Regions from separate parts of the Homo sapiens genome. Here region 1 is linked to region 2. Evidence: fine-mapped QTL for protein levels in blood plasma. Region 2 holds a variant in brackets. A gene starts in the other region. All regions are shown on their forward strands. Region 1 holds the start of FGFBP1 (fibroblast growth factor binding protein 1). Region 2 has its middle 7.7 kb from the start of CEACAM16-AS1.

Evidence for each region. PIP is the chance, under the fine-mapping model, that this variant and not a neighbour inherited with it causes the effect. The UK Biobank Pharma Proteomics Project read protein levels with antibody pairs (Olink). The fine-mapping took linkage between variants from a reference panel, not from the people measured, so its PIPs are less certain.
Region 1: FGFBP1 starts here. The variant in region 2 is fine-mapped to the plasma level of the FGFBP1 protein (UK Biobank, PIP above 0.99).

Annotation. Positions count from the first base shown.
Region 1 is chr4:15,931,876-15,944,643 of GRCh38, forward strand. It overlaps FGFBP1 (fibroblast growth factor binding protein 1), which reads right to left and starts at 6,865. Exons shown (of 3, transcript NM_005130.5): 1 at 6,812-6,865; 2 at 6,376-6,596; 3 at 3,702-4,777. The coding sequence starts at 4,757. The coding sequence ends at 4,053.
Region 2 is chr19:44,726,528-44,739,295 of GRCh38, forward strand. No RefSeq gene overlaps it. Among named protein-coding and RNA genes, the nearest start is that of CEACAM16-AS1, 7.7 kb to the left of the region's middle. RefSeq lists an enhancer at 10,601-11,102. The variant A/G (reference allele first, on the strand shown) is at 3,591.

The sequences.
Region 1 (12,768 bases), not on the chromosome of region 2:
TCAAAAAGATTTTCTTGGATATTGCTGCATGAAATGGTGAGCATTGTACACAGCACATTATGCAAACCAACACATCAGAGGATGGCTGGTGTCATATCTGCTTGAAAGCTTTCAGCCCCAAACACTTTGGCATTCCTGCCATTTCTGCCAAAAACAACTTCGGAGAGAGGCTGGGGAAGGAGGCTAGGTGAGATCTGTTGGATTCCAGAGATTCAAGTCAGCACTGGTGTGACTGTGAGTTACCACACAGAGCTGGGGTGCCCGAAGGAAGAGACCCTCTTTCTGCCGAGATGTGGTTTTATAAGGAAAGAGAGACATTCCCACTTCTGAGTGGCTTTAGGGGGTACAGACATGCCAATCTTCAGCACATCTTACCTACCGAAAAATTTCCATCTTTTGCTGTCAAAACAAGTCATATCTTAAAGACCACACACACAGAGAAAGTTGGCTTCTCTACTTCATATCCAGAAAGTTCTCAGGGAGAAAATATGTAGCACTAAGGTGAATAGAAGTCAATGTAGCCGGGCACGGTGGCTCATGCCTGTAATCCCAGCACTCTGGGAGGCCAATACGGGTGGATCACCTGAGGTCAAGAGTTAAAGACCAGCCTGGCCAACATGTTGAAACCCTGTCTCTACTAAAAATACAAAAATTAGCTGCGCGTGGTGGCAGGTGCCTGTAATCCCAGCTATTCGGGAGGCTGAGAGAGGAGAATCGATTGAACCTGGGAGGCAGAGGTTGCAGTGAGCTGAGATCATGCCACTGCACTCCAGCCTGGGTGACGAGAGCGAAACTCCGTCTCAAAAAAAAAAGAGGAAAAGAAAAAGAAAAAAGGTAAAAAAAGAAAGTCAATGTAAATCTGTGGAGCCTCTATTTACATATTTCTTTTTACTGTGTTCTTAAAACATCCCCTCAGCATATGACTATGATCGGAGGCTGAGTGCAATGGAAGTGTTCACTTCTAGAACTTTCTCTCTGTAAGGACAGGAAGAAGATATATATGTGGAATGGACTGATGGATATTGTTCATTGTCAAGTTTGGCCTACATCCAGAGACCATAAATGTCACTCTTCTATCACTGAGTGAAGAAAATCATGCACTTCAGAGGCAGAAAGGGCTTGGGACCTCCAGGCCAGGGATTCCCATTATAGGCTCTGCCATTTAATAACTTCATAACCCTGGGAAGGTTCCTCGGCTTCTCTCAGCCTCACTTTCCTCATCTAGAAAATGAAGGTGAGACTCCTACCAGATGGAGTTGTGGGGGATTCACGAGACAATGGAGCAAAACCACTGGCACACAGTGGGTGATCCATAATGGTGGCTCCTGGCCACTTGTACTACAGACACAAATAAACAAAACCAAAAACCTTCCACAGTTAGAGAGTTTTCACTGGGAATTTTGACTTCCCTCTACAATTCAGTCTCCTGCTGTGGACTTTAAGTGGTCAGTGGTGTTGAACAACTATTATCTAACTATTGGCATAGTATTAAGAGATTCAGAGATATTGACCAATGTCAGTGTTTCAGGACCCTTAATAATGGGTGGGTTTCATGATTCCATTGTCAAGATGAGCTCATTTCTGCTCAGAAGATTAAATAATTGGCCCTGAGACTGGTTATCTATCAGCAGAAGCAAACTTTGTGCTGAGATCCAGGTCACTCTTCCATGGTAGAGGCAAAACTCCTTCCAGTTCTGCCAGTGACCAGAGGCCAGGAGTGAACTCAAACCAGCAACTGCGGGCCTGGAGGAGTTTAAGGAGGTTTTGGGTCTGTTCTCCAATGTTCTTGCCAACCCATAACAAACCTGATGACTGTTGAGTGACTCCTGGAGGAGATTATTATTCTTTTTCTATCTCAGGGCTATGTTACATATGTGGAGGAGGGGGCCACAGGGCTGAGAACCTGTGTAGACCTTAAGGGAAAATATCCTTTCTTTGCTGTGGCTTGAAGGAGCTTGGGGAGGGTCTGGAATGTTGCTTCAGTGCTCTTGGAGTTGGTGGTAAGGTTCACAGGTCAGGCCCCAGGCCCCATCCTACAATGACCCCACCCTCTTGGACATTTCTCTAACATGCCAAGCATGATCCCTGTCATGGGAATGGAAGTGCCATGAAGACAGGGATTTCTTTTTTCTCTTTCCTTCATTGCTATTTCTCACCTATGGTAGAGTTCCTGGCAAAAAGAAGGGACAAATAGGATTGAATAAATAGATTAACCATGATTTCAGGGCATATGTTCTGACTGGTCCCTCTGTTTGGAACATGCTTACCCAGGAGAGTTCCCTGGCTAAAAAGAGATTCCTCTTTTTAGGTCTAAGCTCAAAAGTAACCACCACAGAGAGGCTTTTCCTCTCCACCCCATCTAAAGCTCATTACCCTCGATCACTTTATCCCCTTCCCTTGCTTTAATAGTCTTCTCTATCGTGTATCATGTATCATGAGCTCATCATCACTTTTCCCACTGTTCCATGAGGGCAGAACACTCGTCTCTTGTACATCCATTGCTGTATCTCTGGCACCTGGAACACAACCTGGAGTGAGTCAGTGCTCTGTAAGTTATGTGTTGAGTGAGTGAGTGAATGAATAAATCCACTATCCATGGGAAAACTTGGAACAGTGCTTGCTCATAGCAGGTAAGAGATAAGTGCTCTTTTTATTGATGATCATGATGACATCCAAATGTCACTCTGAGGCTGTGGCACTGTGGATTGGCCTCTGACGTCCTCAGTGTGCATCCCAGTAGGTTGGTGAATGTAAAAGGCTTTCCTTCCCCCCCACCTGCCATTCCTCCCTGCCACCATCAGACATGCTAAAGAACAGTGCTTTCGTCAGCTTCTGCTCCTCCTTTCCCTGGTTGTGGAATTGTGACAAGGCATTGGAGACAGTTCATCCTCTCTCCCCCACTCTTAAAATACAACTTTCAGATCCTTCATACTAACATATAAATGAATAATGGCAGTCTCATCGCTGCATCCCATCCGATCCCAGACACCTGACCTCTCCCAGAATCTGAAACTTCCCATCTATTCACTTTCATTCATGTTATCAAATGCCTAAAGTGCCTCCACTTTGCCCCATTTTATTCCCACAGATACTCTTTCCAAAATCCAGCTCCACTATTCCCTCCCCTGTTACACTCAAGCCCAGATCTTACAGCAGTTTCTGCCTTCTCTCTCTGGTTTTCCTTGTAGCCCTCTCCCCCTTCCTTTATAGCCCTTATCTTGGGCCACTGTACTTAACTAGGCCTTTCTTCTCCAAGAATGAAGAATGAAGGAATGAAACTCATTTCTTCTCCAGAATTGAGCTTTGCAAGGCCGGGGTCTTTCGGGTGGGGGAGGGAATGGGCAGCTCTGACATGAATCAGTAGCGGAGGTTCCTCAACCCTGTAGACTCAGCTGTCAGAGCTCCTGGGTTCCAATCCTACCGGCCCTCTTACCATCTATGAGTCCCTGACAAATGATTTAATCACATTATATACCAGGTGTCCCACCTGAAAACAGGGATCCTAGTTATTATACTTCAATAAACACCAAACACCACTGACCAATGGATACAATTATAAAGAAGGATTCCAGAAAGAGATAACTTGCGAAGGGTGGGGAACTGGAAGTTCCTGTTTAGATTGTTTTTCCATTGATATATGGGGACTACTTAATGAGTTTATTTGGGACCAGACACAGAGAAAACCAAGCAATGTTTGAATGTATTTCTGAAAAACACCCAGAGTTTTATTACCATTAATTCAGCAGAAAGTTCGTTGCACTGAAATTATCACTCTGGCTCATTCAGCTCAAAGACTCTTCGCTGCTCAAACACATAGCTGTGTGGGCCATGGAAATACATGCTGCAGGAAACAGCCTCTGAACATCGCATCCAAGAAAAATAAGGCAAATTCCAAAACACAAAAGCAAAAAATACAAAACTTGTTTAAATATTTCGTTGCACTCACTAAGCACAAAAGTTCATATTTTGGGGGGACTGTAGAGAGCTTTAAAGTATACAGAGGGACTTACGACATGACATCTCTTAAGGGAACCCGTTCTCTTTTGACCTCATTAGCATGACGTGTCCTGCACTATGCTGAGGAAGAATGTGCAGAGAGAGCTCCAAGTCTCTCCACAGAACTCCAGGGCAGTCTTCCTCTGGTTTGCCATATCTGGGTCCTCCACACACTCGGGAGCTTTGGTGGCCATGGTCTGGGTCACTGCTAGGCTAGAGGGGGTGGTCTCTTTGCCTTTGATGTGCTCCCTGGGGGACATCTCTGTTTTCTCCTTCCTGGGCTTTGTGTTCCCAAATAGAGTGGAGCTGACTAGCTTAAGACTGGATTCTGGAAAATCCTTTCTGCACACTCTGGTTTTCACAGCTGTCTTGGAATATCTACAGATGTCTTTCTGTGAGCGCAGATTCCGGGCAACTTGTTTCCAATAGACTCTCTCATCCTTGAGCTTTAGGCATGAGGTTGGATTGCCAGCAAAGACACAGGAAAATTCATGGTCCAATTGAGTGCACTCAACCTTGAGAGAGATGCCCTCCTCCTGCTCAGTAGCAGCCCATCTGCAGTTGGCTTGGTCTTTGGTGACAAACTTGCCTTTGTTCCCGGGCCTGCTTTTCTGCTTAATCTGGGTGTTGCCCAGAGTGTCCTTTTGTTCTGAGACCACTTTGCTGTGAAGTCCATTCTTCACTTTTTTTTTCCCCTCCACCAGGAGCACCTGAGCAGCCAGTAGGAGGAAGGAGAGCAGGGTGAGGCTACAGATCTTCATGGCTGCAGCTGGGCGTTCACCTGTTTGACAAAAGGCAAGTGAGTCAGTGGCAGGCAGCAGTTCAGCTGTGCAGGACTACACGCTGGCCTCCCCCTACCCTGACAGGTGCCTACATGATTTCAGAGTAGACCAAGAACGCTTCTGGCTCCTGGAGTCACTAGACAAACAGCCTGTCTACTCACATTTCCACTTGACTTGAGTCTTGAGTGTCACAAAAGTACCACTCTTTGGAGCCTCACGAACTCTCATTTATCATTTATTCACTCATTAACTCCTGCATCTGCTCACTCCTCACTCTTTCATTCACTCATTCAACAAGCATTTACTGAGCACCTACTATATGCCCCCCACCAGACTAGGTGTTGAAGAAATCACCATGATTGAGAAAGCCTCAGATTTGAAAGAGCTTAGAGACCACTCTTTGGGAGAATTTAAATAGCATTGATCAGGGAATCTATCCCGTCATCTCTGTTTCTGATATGAAACAAGTTACTGCTCCAAACTTTCAGCTCCAAAGGGCTGGATTTCTATCTCATGACTCCATATGGACACAGATGCCCAAAATGAGAAAAGACATGACAGATGCCCAAAATGAGAAAGGATGTGGTAAGCATCATGAAAGGTGATGTTGACCCAGAGTTGAACATGCCTGGGGTTTGGGTGGGGTGGGTGGGGTTGTGGGGGTGGGGGAGCTTTTTGTGGGGAAGTAAGAGTTTAAGGAAAGGTGTGAGGTGGGGTGGTTGTCTGATTTGCCTGGGCAAAGTGAATCAGGGTGGAGAGAGGTGAATTTCAACCAGATAGTTCACACTACAAGATCGAAGACAAGGATCATGAGAAATCATTGAATCAATAGGATGAACACCAACGTCACACTGAACTGCATGAATCTGATCATGTGTACAATAAAAACCCATGCTTAACAGAAGAAGAGAAGTCAGTTTCTATATGACACCTCCTGTGTGCTAAGTACTGGTCTAGGGTTTGATTCCCACCTTGTGAAATCCACACAAGAGCTCTTCCAGGTAGCTATTAATATGTCATCCCAGGTGACAGCTCTGACTCTTAAGGCTCAGACAGGTAAGTAAATTGCTCAGGATCTCATAGTGGGCAAGTTCAAAGCTGGTATGGGTAGCCAGATCAATCTCCTTATTCCTTTCTGTCACCCCTGGTTGATCACTTTTTGCTTTTCACATTTACTCTGCCCTTTAAAAACATTGCCAAAGAATAAGAAAAACAACTATGAACAATGACAATTTAGTTTCATATAACACATAATGATAAGATGATTTGTATTATTTGTGCTCCATTTAAAACAAAACACAGAATTTTTTATAAAAAGAGGCAGACCCAGGAAATGGTCCTGATCTGATTTCTACCCTAGAAGTTGGCCATCTTCTAGGGTTAAGAAGGAGAAAGACAATCACAAAAGGGCAGAGAACAGCAATAAATGGTGAAGAGGAGACTGGATATGCCAGAAAAACACCCAGTCATTTCTCACGGCCCTGGGGCTCAGCCCCCACCTGCCCATGATGGAATGCAGGCCCAAGGAACTCCAGGCCCTTGGTGGAGTGAGAAGTGGCAGCAGGTAATAAAGCTGTTAAAGGAGCGAGGCTCTTACCTTGTTCTGAGCACACGGATCCAGTGCAATCCCAGGCAGTGCGAGTGAATTGCAGGCTGCAGCTGTGTCAGGTAGAGTGCAAGGGGGGTAGACTATTCAACAGGAGCCAGGCTGACTGGGTTTTTATAACACTCACTGGGTTTTTACAACACTGTGGCACGTTACTCACAGCTCCTCCCAGCCACGCCCCTCCGAGGGAGCCGGTTCCTGCAGGGAAAGTGCTGGATGTAATCCAGTGAAAAGGGGGGTTACCTGCATGCCATCAAACGCTTCCTCTAGGCCCTTCCCTGTCCACCCTGTGGCCAGGATAGGAGGACAACTCAGCCTCACAGTGACCCTCCTTGATGGGGAGAGGACCCCAGCAGTGATGTCTATGGAGGAGTAAAATAACTATAATGACATGATCCGAGCTGCCAAACTACTGAGCCCATTTTACCTGAGTTCTCCTTTTCCCTCATCACATCCGCTCTAGTAGGGAGTGCAATGATTCCTCCCCTTTTACAAAAGCAGGAATTGGTTCTGGAGATATGTAAGAGCTTGTCCAAGTTCACAGAGGCAGGAAAAGGAACATCTCAAAATTAAAAGTGAGATTCTCTACATCCATGGTCTGATCTCTTCCTGCCTGCCACTCTCAATAAATCTTTGTTGAATGGGTGACTGAAGTTGCCGAAGTTTTCGTAGTGTCTGAGTTCCTTTTTCCATCTGAAGTTACTACATAAGCAGAGGATACCCTAATTCTAGAGGCAGGGAAATTTACATTAAAAATTCCCTCTTTTTTATCAGGGAATTCTACCAGGCTCTGAGAGGCTGGTAAAGAGGGAATTTTTAATATAAGATTACTGTTGTAAATACTTACCTTCAGGTCTCATTCAGAGAGCTCAGGCTGCCCTGCCTGCTACAGGCACAGTCCCACACCAGAATGACCCAGGTGGAATCCTGGCCACAGCATGTGTTTAGCTGAGTGCTATGCCCAAACCACTTAGCCTCTCCCATCATCCATTTGCAGTGTGCTGACAATAACAACGTCTCCTTTATAGCTGCATACTAAATTTTTACTGGGCTAAGCTGTTAACATAAAGTGGAGCAGAATCGTTTTGCCTCATGACAGGGTCTTAAGTTGTATACTTTGAAAACAGACATTTGTTATTTACATATGCAGCATTTAAAAAGAAACTCACTTCTACAGGGAAGATGTGGCCCTCATTATATATTATCACCTCACCTTTCATAGATTTTCAGAAGAAGAAATTGTTCACTTTTCCTTAATTCAGCCATAAGAAAACTATTGTTTAGTGTGATATTAAATGGCAACTGACTTTTGGGTTTGAGATAAGGCAATAGGGAGTGATGGGGACTGTGGCAAACTAGAGAGTCTCTGCCTCCATAGAGGTCAACACTCATCTCCAATTGACTGAGAAAATGCAGGGATTAGGCTCAGTATTGTCACACTGTCTGATTTTTAAAATGACATCCCCAAATCCAGATGTGTTTATATGAAATTGGTTGGCAGCTAATTAAAATTTTCTAAAAATAAAGCTGTAGCTCAACACTATGCAGGCCAAAACTTGTAACTGTGTTTGGATTTTATGAACGATCCACCTGTTTGAGAATTCCGTGGTCATAGCTATAGATGTTGACCAATTTACTCAGAGGCTCAGTCTCTGCATGAATCTGTTGGAAGAAGCCATTTCTGAAGCTGTGTGCCTCTCTCCTAAAATTGCCTCACCCAGGGGTCCGTCCTCACTATCCTCACAAACACCCCGCTGAGGCCCTGACCTCCACGAACAGGCTCTCTCATGCGGTATTTTGGAGGATTATTTGGACATAGGCAAGGCAAAGCTGCTTTGCTCAACAAGGGGAGTCTCCTACAAAATGGAAAATTCTACTTGATCCTTGGGAGGCAGGCAGATTCTTTCTGGAGGCAGATTGCAGTTGGAACACAAAACATATTTACAAGGAAACATGTGGACTCCGGGGTCTTTCTGGGAAGTGCTTCTCTGAGCTTTGCCAGGTAACACTGCACATTCCCCACTGGCTCCTTGTGGCCCTTCCCCTTCCTGTGACTCCCATCCCAGCGTCTGCTTTGCTCTTTCCCTTCTAGACTCAGCAGCACAGCATCAGAGCAGGCTGTGGGGCAGTCACCTCCTTGGCTCATCCTGCCCTTCCAACCTCATTTCCAGGTACTCACACGCAGACACATAAATACACATACACACTGACACACATACAAAGACACACACAAACACACACTGACACACTCAAACACACACAAACACACTCAAAGACACCACACTCATAGACACACAGAGACACACACATACTGACACCTAGACACATTCACACACATACTCATAGGCACACACACACAGAATCACACACAGTGACACTGACACACACACAGAGACAGACACACACACACATGCACACACACACTGCAATCTGGCCACACTGAAACCCTGTCCCACCATTTGCAGATACTCCATGCATGCGCCCACTTCCTGCCTTTGCCTCTGCTGTTCCCTGCACTTGGGATCCCCTTCCCTTCCTTCTCTGCCTGGCACACACCGCCTCATCCTTCAAGGCCAGGCTCCAATGCGAGCCCCTCTCTGTTGGTGTCATTGGCTCCTGACGCCCTGCATGCCACCCACATCTTTAAGAATGTCCACGGGGAGAAATGGCACACTTCCTCCAATGAGCTTACAGCGTGCCAGGCACTGTGCTAAGGCTGTTTCCCAAGCTTTCTTCGTATCTCCATGAACTAAGGAAACGATGTCCTTTTCCAGTGGCTCTGGGGAGACTGCAGAGGACATGGAGCCCCAGCCACGCAGTGCATAGCAGGTTCCAGTAACTTCAGGCCCCTCCACCTCCCCATGCTCCCAGCACTGAGGGGCTCTGTAATTCTTGGGGATGAGTACATAAAGGCCCATTGCACAAGAACCCCAGGAGGAAAGTCGGCCCAGGTCCTCATGGGACAGATGTGGAGGCAAGGCTTAGGGGGACTAAGCACAGTGTCTGACACACAATTAGAGAAGAATTATCTGGAGGCCGCTGCTATCATTCTAAACACAAATGAGGCAGTGTACGCATACACTGATAAATTGTGGAATTCTCCTCTCTTTGCCCCTTCATACCTTCCCTTTAAATTTTTTTTTAAAGTTTTAGAATAATTTTAGGTTTACAGAGAATTGCAAAGATAGTTATCATTCCAATTCTCACCTGGGTTCCCTATTTACCTGTTACATTACTATGGTACGTTTGTCACAACTGACAAACATTGATACATTATTGTCAATTGAAGTCCATACTTTATTCAGACTTGCTTAGGATTTACCTGTTGTTCTAGTTTTTATTATTATTATTATTATTATTGACAGACTTTATTTTTTAGAGTAGTTTTATGCTCATAGCACAATTGAGTGGAAAGTATCAAAAGTCCCATATACCCCTCCCCACACGCAGGCACAGTCTCCCCTACCTTCAACATCATGAACCAGGGTAGTACATTTGCTGTAAGTAATAAACCTACATTAACATGTCATTATCACCCAATGTCCATCATTTCCATTAGGTTCACTCTAAGTGCTGTACATTCTTTGGGTTTTGAGAAATGTATAATGACATGCATAATATCAATTAACTAAGAAAGGTATAATGACGGTACCCACCACTATGGTATCATACAGAATAGTTTAGCTGCCCTAAAAATTCTCTGTGTTCTGCCTACTTACCACTCCATCCCCTACAACCCCAGGCAATGCTCATCCTTTTGCTGTCTCCTCAGTTTTATCTTTTTAAGAATTTCAAATAGTTGGAATCACACAATATGTAACCTTTTATATTGACTTTTTTACCTAGTAATATGCACTTAAGGTTTCTCTATGTTTTTCATAACTTGATAGCACATTTCTCTTAAGTGCTGATAAAATTCCAAAGATTGGATATATCCAAGTCCCTTTATTCATTCACCTACTACTAAAATTCCATTGATTGGATGTACCCGAGTTCATTTGTTCATTCATCTAGGACATTTTGGATGCCTCTAAATTTTGACAGTGATGAATAGAGCTGCTATAAACATGCATGTGCAGGTTTGGTGTAGAATTAAATTTTCAGCTCCTAATGTTCTTTTTCTGTCCAGGATCCCAACATGACACCAGGTTGCATTTAGTGATCGTGACTTTTTGGGTTCTTCTTGGCTATGGCTGTTTCTCAGATGTTGCTTGTTTTTGATGACTATGGCAGTTTGCAGAAGAATTGGTTAGGTGTTTTGAGAATGTCCTTAATTTGGAAATTGTCTGGCATGTTCTGGTTAGATTGGGATCATGTTATTCTTCTCATGATCACACAAAACTTAAATGATGAATACTTTCTTTGGGATTGTGAAAGGAAGTCTGAACACAATTGGTAAAAACACACTGGCTAAGGCTGGTAATTGAATGCATGTCTGGTCACCAGCTGGGGATTTGAAGTTCAAAAGCTGATTTTACTCTCATGCCTGTTACTACCACATAGCTTCTTGACCTAGAGGCCTGGCCCTACTTATGCAGTCACCAGAGATTATTCATATAATGGGTGCAATTTGGTTCTGAGGTAAGTCTTAACTGTGCCAAACTTATTGCCAGGCCAAAGTTGTCAAAAATCAACCCTTCCTTCAAACGTTACTTTACAAACAGACATTGCAAATGCTGAGCTGCTGCACTAAAGCAATATTAATTTGTTGGGCAAATAATGTGCATTAAAATACATTTATTATCAGAAAATAAGGAAATTGGGCTAAGCAAACATCAGTAAAATCTAATTCATCTGGCAAAAAGCATTAATCTTAGACCTACTCAAGAATATTTGCATTCTGGGAGGCCAGGGCAGGCGGATCATGAGGTCAGGAGATCGAGACCATCCTGGCTAACATGGTGAAACCCTGTCTCTACTAAAAACACACACACACACACAAAAATTAGCTAGGCATGGTGGCGGGTGCCTGTAGTCCCAGCTGCTCAGGAGGCCGAGGCAGGAGAATGGCGTGAACCCAGGAGGCGGAGCTTGCAGTGAGCCGAGATGTGCCACTGCACTCCAGCCTGGGCGACAAAGTGAGACAAAAAAAAAAAGAATATTTGCATTCCAAATTTAAAGTGCTCATTCATCATGAGATTTCAGGATTCCTGTTCAGGACAATGAAAGTTTTATTTCTTTAGAAAATGAAGAGATAGCAGAGTGTGGATTCTATAGTATTGGGTATGATTGCAAGGTGAAAACCTATTAAGTTTATTTACTTTAGAAAGAATGTTGTTATTAACCACATAATATTAACACATTTCTTAACTTTTATTTTAGGTTCAGAGGGTACATGTGTAGATTTGTTACATGGGTAAATTGCATGTCGCTGAGGTTTGCTGTACAAATGATCTTATCACTCAGGTAGTGAGCATAGTACCCAGTAGGTAGTTTTTCTAACCTTGCCCCCCTCCATTTCTCCCCACTCTAGTAGTCTCCAGCCCTATTTTTGCCATCTTTATGTCCATGCTTACCTAATATTTAGCTCCTTCTCTTTTTTTTTTCTTTCCGAGACAAAGTCTTGCTCTGTCACCCAGGCTAGAGTGCAGTGGCACGATCTTGGCTCACTGCAACCTCCACCTTCTGGCTTCAAGCAGTTCTCCTGCCTCAGCCTTCCGAGCAGCTGGGATTACAGGCACCTGCCACCATGCCTGGCTAATTTTTTTATTTTTAGTAGACACGGGGTTTCACCATGGTGGCCAGGCTGCTCTCGAACTCCGGACCTCATGATCCGCCTGCCTCGGCCTCCCAAAGTGTTGGGATTATAGTCGTGAGCCACTGTGCTCGGTCTAGCTCCTTCTCTTATAAGTGAGAACATGCAGTATTTGGTTTTCTATTCCTGTATTAATTTGTTTAGGATAATAGCCTCCAGCTGCATCCATGTTACTGCAAAGGACACAATTCATTATTTTTCGTGGCTGCATAGATAGTATCCCATAATGTATATGTACCACATTTTCTTTTGTCAATTCACCTTTGATGGGCATCCAGGTTGATTCCATGTTTTTGCTGTTGTGAATATTACCACAATGAACATATGAGTGCATATTGTTTTTTTAAATTTTTATTTATTTACTTTTTTGTAGAATGATTTTCATTTGGGTATATACCCAGCAGTGGAATCATATCAACATGTTTTTAGAAACAATGTTTAATGGTTGGTTCTGATTCTCAACACATTTGAAACCTAACTCCAATTTTTGTGTTAGGTTAAATCATACGAAACTACTATTTGTAGTATGTCAAAAATGCTAGAATATCAGCCATTTGAATGAAACCACTTAATAATAATAGGTATTTTTTCTCAAGTAATAGGGCTATTTCAAAGCCTTTTACAGTGTT
Region 2 (12,768 bases):
CTCCTGGTTCCCTGTACCTCTCCAAAAGCCCCCACGACCAAAAGAAGTAAAGATGTAGGGCCGGGCGCGGTGGCCTACACCTGTATTTCCCAGCACTCTGGGAGGCTGAGGTAAGTGGATCACCTGAGGTCACGAGAACCGATTGAACCCCAGAGGCAGAGGTTGCAGTGAGCCGAGATTGCGCCACTGTACTCCAGCCTGGGCGACACAGAGAGACTCAACCTCAAAAAAAAAAAAAAAAAATGGTGGCTGGGCAAGGTGGCTTATGCCTGTAATCCCAGCACTCTGAGAGGCCAAGGCAGGCAGATCACTTGAGCCCAGGAGTTCGAGACCAGCCTGGGCAACATGGTGAAAACCCGTCTCTACAAAAAATACAAAACTTAGCTGGGTGTGGTGGCATGCGCCTGTAATCCCAGCTACTCAGGAGGCTGAGGCATGAGAATCGCTTGAATCCGGGAGGTGGAGGCTGCAGTGAGCCAAGATCATGCGACTGCACTCCAGCCTGGGTGACAGTGCAAGACTCTGTCTCAAAAAAAAAAAAAAGTTCCCACTCTGGTCCAGCCACCATCACTGAAGGCCCGGACCATGCAGTCACCTCCTCATGGGACTCCCTGCCTGGGTCCTTGCTGCACCTCCACAAGGACCTGTCTTTCCCCCACATGCAGCCACAGGGATCCTGTTAACACCTAAGTCATCAGAAGGCTGAGGCGGGAGGATCGCTTGAGCCCAGGAGGTCGAGGCTATAGTAAGCCAAGATGGCACCACTGTACTCCAGCCTGGGCAACACAGTGAGACCCTGTCTCTAAACAGTAATAATAATAACAAATTAAATTAAATTAAAACCTGGCCTGGGCATGGTGGCTCATGCCTGTAATTCCAGCACTTTGGGAGGCCGAGGCAGATAGAGTACCTGAGGTCAGGAGTTGGCCAACATGGTACCTGACCAACGTGGTGAAACCCTGTCTCTATTTTAAAAATATAAAAATTAGCTGGGCCTGGTGGCACATGCCTGTAATTCCAGCTACTCAGGAGGCTGAGGCAGGAGAATCGCTTGAACCTGGGAGGCGGAGGTTGCAGTGAGCCCAGATGGCATCACTACACTCCAGCCTGGGCGACAGAGCGAGACTCCATCTCGAAAAAAAATAAAAAATGAAGTCAGATTATCCCTCCCCTGCCCAGAACCCTCCATGGCTCCCATCTCCCTCTGAGTAAAAGCCTATGTCCCTACAGTGGCTCATAAGATCCTGAGCCATCTCCTTGCCACCCTTCCCCTCTCCCCATCCTCCCACTCTCCCCCAGCTCATCCTGCTCCAGCTACACTGGCCTCCAACAGCTGTTCCGACCCACCTCTGGGCCTTGGCACTTGCTGTTCCCTCTGCCTAGAATACTCTTCCCCCAGATGTCCACATGGTTCATTCCCTCCCCTCACTCAAGTCTTAGCCCCAAACGTCATTCCTTGGAGGGCCTCCCTTGGCCACCAGATTTAAACAACAGCTTCCACTTCCTATGCTCCATCTCCCTCATTCCCTCACCAGTTTTATTTTTCTCCATAGCAAATACATACCATTGGCTGTATTTTCCTTGTCTTGTTGACTGTCTCCTGGATGGATGGACGAGTCTGTGGCTCCCCAAGGGCAGGAATCTTAGTTGTTCAACACCAGGGCAGGGCCTGGAAAACCTGTTAGCAGAGTGAATGAATTGTGTGTGTGTTTTGAAAAGGTAAGGTGTTCACAAGTTCCAAAATTCAAAAAGGACCAAATGGCAGTGAGCTGTCACTTCCCCACCACGACTCTGCCCCTCCCTCCCCAGTCCTGTTCTCACCTCCCAGTTTCCGTTTTTTTGTTTTGTTTTGTTTTGAGACAGGGTCTCACTCTGTCACCCAGGCTGGAGTACAGTGGTGCCAGCATAGCTCACTGCTGCTTCCACATCCTGGACTCAAATGATCCTCCCACCTCAGCCGCCCTAGTAGCTGGGGCCATAAGCACGCACCACCATGCCCAGCTAATTTTTGTATTTTTGGTAGAGACGGGGTTTTACCACGTTGCCCAGGCTGATCTCGAACTCCTGGGCTCAAGTGATCCATCCACCTTGCCCTTGCAAAGTGCTGGGATTACAGGCGGGGGCCGCTTTGCAAATGGTGCACAGTCTTGCTGTGGCCTGCATTTTCCCCTAGCAATACAGCAATACATCTGGAAAATCACACCGCATCAGCACCTTCTTTTTTTTTTTTTTTTTTTTAATAATTGCATGCACAGTGTCGACTTGTGGACAGACGAGAGCTCTTGCCGCAATTGTTATTATATTTCAGGAGTGGTGTGGCGTGGTGCCTAAGACCTCAGTGTCATCTCTCAGACCCGGATTCACCTCGTAGCTCTACAGCCAGAACTCCCACAGGCTGCTGGTGGGCGTGCAAGCCCCGAGCAGCCACTTTGGAAAATGGTTTGCCAACTTCCCGCAAGGTTAAATACACACTTCCCATAGGATCCAACAATTTTATTCCTCGGTATTGACCCGAGAGAAATGAAAACCTATTTTCACACAAAAAAACTGTATGCACACACACTCACAGCAGCTCTGTTCATAATTGCCAACAACTGTAAACAACCCAAATGTCCTTCAGCTTGTATGTGGATAAGCGAGCTGTGGTCCATCCACACAATGGAATATCACTCAGCAGTGAAGACTAACTGCTATTGATACACACAACGTGGATGGACCTCAACTGTGTTATATTGAGTGAAAGAAGCTATGCTCAAAAATTACAGTGTTCAGCCGAGTGCAGTGGCTCACGCCTGTAATCCCAGCACTTTGGGAGGCCAAGGTGAGAGAATTGCTTGAGCCCAGGAGTTTGAGACCAGCCTGGGCAACATGGTGAGACCCCATCTCTATAAAAATATTGATGATGATGGTGATGATGATGATGATGATAATGATAATAACTACATTACTCCATTTACAAGACACTCTGAAAAAGGCAAAACTAGAGGGACAGAAAACAGACCTGTGGTTGCCAGGGGTGGGGTGGGGGATGGGCGTGACCCCAAAAGGGCAGATGAAGGGTTTTAGGGGTGGTGGGACATATCCATATTTTGATTCTGGTGGTGACTACACAGCCACATGAGCCTGTCAAAGCTTTAAGAACTGCATGCCCCACAGGCACTTCGAGAGGCCAAAGCAAGAGGCCAGGAGTTGAAGACCAGCCTGGGCAACATAGTGAGACCCCATCTCTACCATAAATACAAAAATTAGCTGGGCTTGGTGGCGTGCACTTGTAGTTCCAGCTAATGAGGAAGCTGAGGCGGGACGATCGCTAGAGCCTGAAAGGTTGAGGCTGCAGTGAGTGGTGATCGCACCGCTGCACTCCAGCCTGGGTGACAGAGTGAGAACATTCCTCAAAAAAAAAAAGAAAGAAAGAAAGAAAGAAAAGAAATGTATGATGAAAAGAGTGAATTTTACTGTAGGTAAATTTGTCAATGATTTTTTTTTAAGGACTACATACTCTGTAATCCCATTTACATGTCATCCTGGAAAAGCAAATTTATAGGGATAAAAAGCAGCTGGGTGTGGCGGCTCACACCTGTAATCCCAGT[A/G]CTTTGGGAGGCTGAGGCAGGTGGATCACTTGAGGTCAGGAGTTTGAGACCAGCCTGGGCAACATGGTGAAACCCCACCTCTACTAAAAATACAAAAATTAGCCGGGCGTGGTGGCAGGCACCTGTAATACCAGCTACTCAGGAGGCCAAGGCAGGAGAATCGCTGGAACCCGGGAGGTGGAGGTTGCAGTAAGCCGAGATCGTGCCACTGCACTCCAGCCTGGGTGACAGAGCAAGACCCCATCTCAAAAAAAAAAAAAAAAGGCAGATATAGCTGAGTGTGGTGGCTCATGCCTGTAATCCCAGAACTTTGGGAGGCTGAGGTGGGTGGATCACTTGAGGTCAGGAATTCAAGACCAGCCTGGCCAACATGGTGAAACCTCGTCTCTACTAAAAATACAAAAATTAGCCGGACATGGTGGTGCCTGCCTGTAATCCCAGCTACTGGGGAGGCTGAGGCAGAAGAATCACTTGAACCCGGGAGGCAGAGGCTGCAGCAAGCAGAGATCGCGCCCCTGCACTCCAGCCTGGGTGACAGAGCAAAATGTCTCAAAAAAAAAAAAAAGAAAAAAGAAAAAGAAAAAGAAAAGAAAAGAGGCCGGGCGCGGTGGCTCACGCCTGTAATCCCAGCACTTTGGGAGGCCGAGGCGGGCAGATCACAAGGTCAATAGATCGAGACCATCCTGGCCAACATGGTGAAACCCCGTCTCTACTAAAAATTCAAAAATTAGCCAGGCATGGTGGCGGGCGCCTGTAGTCCCAGCTACTAGGGAGGCTGAGGCAGGAGAATCACTTGAACCAGGGAGGCAGAGGTTGCAGTGAGCCGAGACCGTGCCACTGCACTCCAGCCTGGCAATAGAGTGAGACTCCATCTCAAAAAAAAAAAAAGAAAAGAAAAAGCAGATTAGTGGCTGCCAGTGTCTGGGGACAAGGGGAGGAGATGACTGCAAGGAGGGCACAGTGGACCTTTTCCGGGCACTAGAAATGTTCTATATCTTGATCAGGATATGATTAAATGATTGTACATGTTTATCAGAACTCATCTAGCATACTCCTTCTTTAATTTAATTTTAATTAATTTAATTGATTTATTTTTGAGAGAGTCTCGCTCTGTCACCCAGGCAGGAGTTCGGTGGCAAGATCACAGCTCACTGCAATCTCCACCTCCTGGATTCAAGTGCCTCAGCCTCCCAAGTAGCTGGGATTATAGGCATGCGCCACCATGCCCCGCCAAACACACACATTTGAAACAGGTGTATTTTATTGCATGTAAATTATACCTCAGTACAGTTGATTTTTAAAATCTAAACTCCTGGCCAGGTGCAGTGGTTCAGGACTGTAATCCCAGCACTTTGGGAGGCTGAGGCAGGAGGATCACTGGAGCCCGGGAGTTCAAGACCAGTCTGGGCTTCCTGGCAAGACCCTGTCTCTACAAAAAAAAAAAAAAAAAAATGCAAAAACTAGCAGGGCATGGTGGCACATGCTTGTAGTCCCAGCTACTCAGGAGGCTGAGGGGGAAGGATCACCTGAGCCCCGGGAGGTGGAGGCTGCAGTGAGTCGTGAATGCACCACTGCACTCCAGCCTGGGTGACAGAGTGAGACCCCGTCTCAAAACACACACACACACACACACACACACACACATTTAGCTCCTCTTCCCCCTTATTGGCTGTGTGACCTTAGACAAAGCTCCTAACTTCTCTGTGCCTGGGTAAATGATGAGGGAGTTGGGAAGGAGGGAATGATCACTGAGGGCAGGTGCTGAGGTCTCAGGTCTCACTGTGGATTCATGCAAGAAACGTTTACAAGTGAAACAGAGGGGCTTTATGAGCTTTTAGAGGGGAACTGGAGACAGAGACCTGAGCAGCTGACAATGGCTCCTATGTCTCCGGAGGGCAGGTGGTGGGCTGAGCACTGTCAGGGCCTCACCTGCATCCCTTTGAACCATCGGGCACTCCTTTGCTGACCTGGAAAAGTGAGTGGAGCCATCCCTGGGATCCCAGAGAAATGGCATCGAGGGCACACAATTAAGAGCATTGTAAGCAAGCCTTGTGAACAGTCAGATGGGCTTGACAGCCCCGTGCCCAGAGGTCTCTGCTGTTTGGGGCAGTGCTGGATACACACAGCAGTGACAGCCCCAGGCCTGCCCTCACAGGCTCACACATGGGGAAGACTAGCCTGTCCCCAGACAGTCGCATCCCAGAATGTTGGGGCTGGCATGGTCAGGGGGGCCCAGAGGGGGCTCCTGACTCAGACTAGAAAGAGAAATCAGGGAGGGCTTCCTGGAGGAAAGGCTGTCAGAGCTGGGGCCTGATGTGTTTATTGAGCACTTACTGTGTGACCTGGTTTGGATCTCCAAGAAAGAGGTATAGTTTTGACGTTGAAGTGAAAGGGGTATGTATGGAAGGAGGATGGTGCGAGAGAGGCCTTGGCTAAGAGGCAGAAAGGGGTGTGGGTGGGACAGAGCCGGGGGATAAGGCTGAAGGAAGACGGTAGCTGGTGTGGGTCCTCTGCGGCAGGATCCTGGACTTTCTCCCGATGATGGGGCTCAGGAAGGAGCAGCTTCCTCAGGTTCCATCCTGTGCAAAGGGAGGACCAGGCAGGAGGAGGTGGGGAGGCTGAGGAAAGGCCATGGAAATGAGAAGTGGCTATAAGAGCCACCCAGGGGAGGGGACACAGGGAGGGTGAGAAGACCTGGGCGCCCGCTCCTTTCTCTTCTCTGTTCTCACTCTGAGCTAGACGGCATTGGCCGGGCAGCTTCCTTGTTTCTAAAAGTTTAAGATAAAGGGCAGGCAAGGTGGTGCCTGCCTGTAGTCCCAGTGCTTTGGGAGGCCCAGGCAGGTGGATCACTTGAGCCTCCTGTTTGGAGCTGTAGTGAGCTATGATCACATCACTGCACTCCAGCCTGGGTGACAGAGCAAGACCCCATATCTAAAAATAATAATAATAATTAATAATAAATATAAATTTAAGATAGTGAATCTGGCCGTGCGTAGTGACTCATGCCTGTAATCCCAGCACTTTGGGAGGCTAAGGTGGACGGATCACCTGAGGTCAGGAGTTCAAGAACAGCCTGGCCAACAGGACGAAACCCTGTCTCTATTAAAAAACACAAAAAAATTAGCTAGCGTGCACCTGTAGTCCCAGCTACTCGGGAGGCTGAGGCATGAGAATCGCTTGCACCTGGGGGACAGAGGTTGGCATAAGCCAAGACCGCACCACTACACTCCAGCCTGGGTGACAGAGTGAGACTCCATCTCAATAAAAATAAATAAATAAATAAATAAATAAATAAATAAATAGTGAATCTTAAGTTTGCCAAGGATGCATTTTTATCTCTCTTTAGTTCTTAAGACTCTGATCATTCTTCTTTTTTTTTCAAGTTCCAGGGTATATGTGCAGGATGTGCAGGTTTGTTACATAGTAAAAATGTGCCACGGTGGTTTGCTGCACCCATCAACCCATCGCCTAGGTATGAAGCCCGTCATGCATTAGCTATTCTTCCTAATGCTCTCCCTCCCTCTGCACCCCTCCCCATCCCAACAGGCCTCAGTTTGTGTTGTTCCCCTTCCTGTGTCCATGTGTTCTCATCATTCAGCTCCCACTTATAAGTGAGAACACGTGGTGTTTGGTTTTCTGTTCCTGCGTTAGTTTGCTGAGGATAAATGGCTTCCAGCTCCATCTGTATCCCTGCAAAGCACATGATCTTATTCCTTTTCATGGCTGCATAGTATTCCACGGTGTATACATACCACATTTTTCTTTATCCAAGACTTCGATCATTCTTAATTTTTATTTTTATTTTATTTATTTATTTATTTATTTTTGAGACAGAGTTTTGCTCTTGTTGCCAAGGCTGGAGTGCAATGGTGCAATCTCAGCCCAATGCAACTTCCTCCTCCTGGGTTCAAGTGATTCTCCTGCCTCAGCCTCCCGAGTAGCTGGGATGACAGCCATGCACCACCATGCCGAGCTAATTTTGTATTTTTAGTAGAGATGGAATTTCTCCATGTTGGTCAGGCTGGTCTTGAACTCCTGACCTCAGGTGATCCGCCCACCTTGGCCTCCCAAAGTGCTGGGATTATAGGTGTGAGCCACCGTGCCTGGCCTAATTTCTTAAATTCTACCCATTTTTGCTCCTAAAGTTCTGTAACTGCAGGTTTACTTGATCCTTTGATACTAAGATTCATTCATTCAGTAAATACTTACTGGGCCTCTATTCTGCCCTAGGTCCTAATGATACAAGGGAGAACAAAATGTATAAAATTTTTGCCATGACAGAAATCACATTTACTGAGCACTCACTGTGTGCCAAGTTTCATGCCAGGTGTACACATATAACATTACCTACATGATGAGTTACAGACTTCTATTATCCCCATTATCCAAATGGGGAAACTGAGGCATAGGGTTCTGGAATCCCTTGTTCCTAAAAATCTAGGATTCTAGAATTCCTCTCCTTCTCCTTCCTCTTCCTCTTCCTCCCTCCTCCTCCTCCTCTTCTCCTTCTCCTTCCCCTTCCCCTTCCCCTTCCCCTTCCCCTTCCCCTTCTCCTTCTCCTTCTTCTTTTTGAGACAGGGTCTCACTGTGTTGCCCAGGCTGGAGTGCAGCGGCATGATCATAGCTCACTACAGCCTCAATCTCCCAAGCTCAAGAAATTCTCCCACCTCGGTCTCTTAAGTAGCTGGGACCACAGGCAGGGTCTCACTTTGTTGTCCAGGCTGGTCCCAAATTCCTGGGCTCAAGTGATCCTCCTGTTTCAGCCTCCCAAAGTGCTAGGATTACAGGCATGAGCCACCGTGCCCAGCCTAGAATTCTTTGCACCTAAGATTGTAAGGGTCTATAATTCTTTGTCCTTAAGATTCTCTTATGCTTGGATTCAAGTGAACAATGTATATAGGAAAAGGTGCTGAATCTCATTATTGATCCAGGAAATGCAAATTAGAACCACCCTGAGATTCCAATCCACACATACACACAGCAGGATGACTCATATTTTTAAATCTGGTAGATCCAGTACTGATAAAGATGTGGGGCAAGGAGAACTCACAGCGGACATTGAAGATGGGAGTGAGAATTGGCATAACCACGTGGGAAAAGTGTCTGGCCATGTCTTCTACAGGGGACACCCTGCAGCCTAACAATTCTAGTCCTGGAGAATGCAGAAAAATGCACGCTCATGAGCATGAGCAGTATTGGCCAAAACAGTCAGAAAGTGGAAACCAACCTTCTGCCCACCAACAAATAATAGATTCAAAAATTGTGCTATACAGCCGAGCGCAGTGGCTCAAGCCTGTAATCCCAAAACTTTGGGAGGTTGAGGCAGGTGGATCACTTGAGGTCAGGAGTTCAGGACCAGCCTGGCCAACATGGTGAAACCCCATCTCTACTAAAAATACAAAAATTAGCTGGGCGTGGTGGCACATGCCTGTAATCCCAGCTACTCTGGAGGCTGAGGCAAGAGACTCGCTTGAACCCAGAAGGCAGAGATTGCAGTGAGCCAGGATCATGCCACTGCACTCTAGCCTAGGTGACAGAGCAAGACTCAGTCTCAAAAAAAATAAAATAAAATAAATTGTGCTATATCCATGCAAGAGAATAGTATACAGCAATGAAAAAATAAACACACTCCAATAGATTCAAGGATATGAATGAAAAGCCAGGCAAGGTGGCTCACACCTGTAATCCCAGCACTTTGGGAGGCTAAGGGGTATGGATCACCTGAGGACAGGAGTTTGAGACCAGCCTGGCCAACATGGTGAAACCCCATCTCTACTAAAAATACAAAATTAGCCAGGTGTGGTGGTGCACACTTGTAACCGTACTCAGGAGGCTGAGGCAGGAAAATCACTTGAACTCAGAAGGCAGAGGTTGCAGTGAGCCAAGATTGCGCCGTTGCATTCCAGCCCGGGCAAAAAGATCGAAACTTTAAACTTTAGCTCAAAAAAAAAAAAAAAAAGAAAAAACAGAAAAGAATATGAATGAAATTCACAGACATAAAATTGAGTCAAAGAAGCCAGATCCAAGAGGTTGTACAATAAGATTCCCTTTAGGACAGGCATGGTGGCTCACGCCCGTAATCCCAACACTTTGAGAGGCTGAGCCAGGCGGATCACCTGAGGTCAGGAGTTCGAGACCAGCCTGACCAACATGGTGAAACCCCGTCTCTGCTAAAAATACAAAATTAGCCGGGCGTGGTGGCGCATGCCTGTAGTCCCAGCTACTCAGGAGGTTGAGGCAGGAAAATCGCTTGAACCCAGGAGGCGGAGGTTGCAGTGAGCCGAGATCGCACCATTGCACCCCAGCCTGGGCGACAATAGGAAAACTCTGTCTCAAAAAAAAAAAAATTAGCTAAGCATGGTAGCAATGCACCTGGGGTCCCAGCTAGTCGGGAGGCTGAGGCCAGAAGATTGGCTGAGGCCAGGAGTTCAAGGCTCCAGAGAGCTATGGTCACACCCACTGCACTCCAGCCTGGATGACAAAGCGAGACCCCATCTAAAAAAAAAAAAAGATTTCCTTTATTAAAAATTCAAAATCGTAGTAGTCGTAGGTAGCAAAAATATAAAGAAAAGCAAGAAAATTATACCATAAAAGACAAAATACAGGTCACCTTTCCAGGAGGGAGGGAGCTGTGAGGCATGAAGAGGCATGAAGGAGCTTCTGAGGAACTAGCAACACTATTTCTCTTTTTTTCTCTTTTTTTTTTTTTGAGACAGAGTCTTACTCTGTCACCCAGGCTCGCGTGCATTGGCGCAATAGCAATATTGCTCACTGCAACCTCCGCCTCCTCGGTTCAGCTATTCTCCCAGCCTCCAGAGTGTCTGGGACCACAAGGCGTGCACCACCATGCCCCACTAATTTTTGTATTTTTAGTAGAGATGGGGTTTTGCCATGTTGCCCAGGCTGCTCTCGAACTCCTAACCTCAGGTGATCCGCCCCCTCGGCCTTCCAGTGCTAGGATTACAGGCATGAGCCACCGCGCCTGGCCCAGCAACACTTTCTTAACCTAACTGTTTCCTTTACAAAAGTCTCTGAAACAGAACAATATATTTTAATTGTACGCAATTCTCCCCATGTTATATTTCATAATTTTCAGGGATTTTTTTTTAATCCCACGATTCCAAATCTCTGTTCCTCAAATGACGTGGCTCTCCAGGGGGCGGTGGGCAAAAGTTCTGAGCCCTGGCATGGAGCCCTGGCACAGAGACCTGGTGCACGGTGCACCAGGAACCCACAGGAGAATTTGGGATCTGAAACAGCAAATACAATTTGATTTTCCCAGAAGTGAGCAAATGTGCTGTGACTCTGTGTGACCACAGTGGGCTGAAGTGACAAGTTCAAGGGTAGGTGATGTTCAGAGTAGAGGCCACAAGCCAGCGCCTCCCCGCCCCCACCCCACCTCCTGCAGAGCGTGACGCCAGTAAGAGTGGTCATCTATTTCTCTTCCCACCAGCCACCCCAGAGCCTGGCTCTCCCTGGGAGGAGATGCAACCTCAACAATCCTGGGCCAGTCCCATTCTTTTTGGATGTGGAAATTGAGCCTGCCCAGGATTGCTTGGCTGAGAGGCTGCCGTGTTGGGATTTGCTCCTGACTTGCAACCACCTGACTCCACAGGGATGAGGCAGTAGAGACAGCCCTGCCCCATCCTCAGTATCCTGGGAATGTGTTGGAGGGTATGGGTGGCCCCGACTGGGACACTGGGATGACGGTTGGAAACAAGGGAGGTGAGTGTGCCATGTCCCGGCTCAAATGAGGAAGGGCCCAGTGTGACCTCGGCTTTCCCAGGAGCCTGAGGGACTTTTGCATCTGTATTTTTAAATGCTGGTGGCCACAGGGCAGGTTGTGGCCTTGAGTAGGGGAGGCACCGACTTCCAGGGAAAAGGCTGGAGTTTCAGGAAAGGGACTGTCCCTCCTGGATAGGCACCATGCTCCACCCTGCCAGGGTGGGCTTGAGAAGAGGGGCTTCTAATTCAATGGGAGGGCTCCTACTTAGGGAGTGGCTAGGCTGATAGGGGTGGCATGATTTCCCCCAACTCAAGTCAAGAAGGAACCACTAATCTGATGGAGGAGGCACATACCAGCTCCCTCCTGGGGAAATTTATATTTCCTAGTCTAATTTGATGGACAAAACTTAATTTTACTCGGACAGCACTCCTAGTCCCAAGAAGGATTCAAGATTTACAGCGTAGTGAGCTCTAGTCTGATGGAGGAGGCAGGACCCAAACCCACCCACAGGGAGGTTTCCTATGAGGGTGGAGGCATGCCTGTTATCTTCAGGAAGCTCTAGTCTAGTCTGACATTCATCCAAATGTCTTCTGGGGAGGAGGGGCAAAATTGCTCCCCTCAATTGAGAATCTAGACAGAGGAGGGAGTCATGCTGCCCCACCCCATTTTTTTTTCCTTTTAGATCTAGTCCTGAACCCAGATGCCCCATGCATCTTCACGGAACCGATGGGAGAAGCAAAATCCACTTTTAGAGATATCTAATCTGTGAAGAAGTCACACTTTCATTCTCAGGGAGATTCTGATCTGATGGAGGAGGAAGAATGCAATTCAAACCCTCAAGGAACTCTTACACTGATGGGAAACATGTCCCCACCTTGGGGGCCTCCAAGTCTGATGGCAGAGGTCTTCCTCCCATCCTTGGGAAGCTCTAGTCCAATGAGGGAGGCACTCCCCCACCATGTCAGTGCCTTCCTTCCCGTACCTTCTCCCTGCCCTCTGGCTGCCCGAATGAGCAGGGCAGGGGGCTTCCCCTCCCCACCTCCCTGGTGAATCCTAGAATCAGGGAACTTCTGCAGGAGGACACCACGGTTCCCCAGCCCTGGGACTTCCCTTTCTCCGTCAGCCCAAACCCAGGGCCTCACTGGGGGGGCCAGACATGCCTGCCCTGCTGATCATGGCTCACCTATCACCCCAGCCCCCATGACATCACCTGGTTATTGCATGTCCACAGCATCCCAGGCTCCGCGGGGACTTTCCATGCTTGACCTCGCCAGTGCCCTACCCTGAGAGGGAGGAGTCTGTCCCCACTTTACAAACAAAGCTTAGAGGGCATGGCACTCTTGCCAGAGACCACACAGCCAGAAACTGGCAGAGTGGGGAACAGACCAAGTGGGTCTGACTCCAGAGCCCCAGCTCCTTAGGAATGAGGATGAGGATGATGTACGTATACAG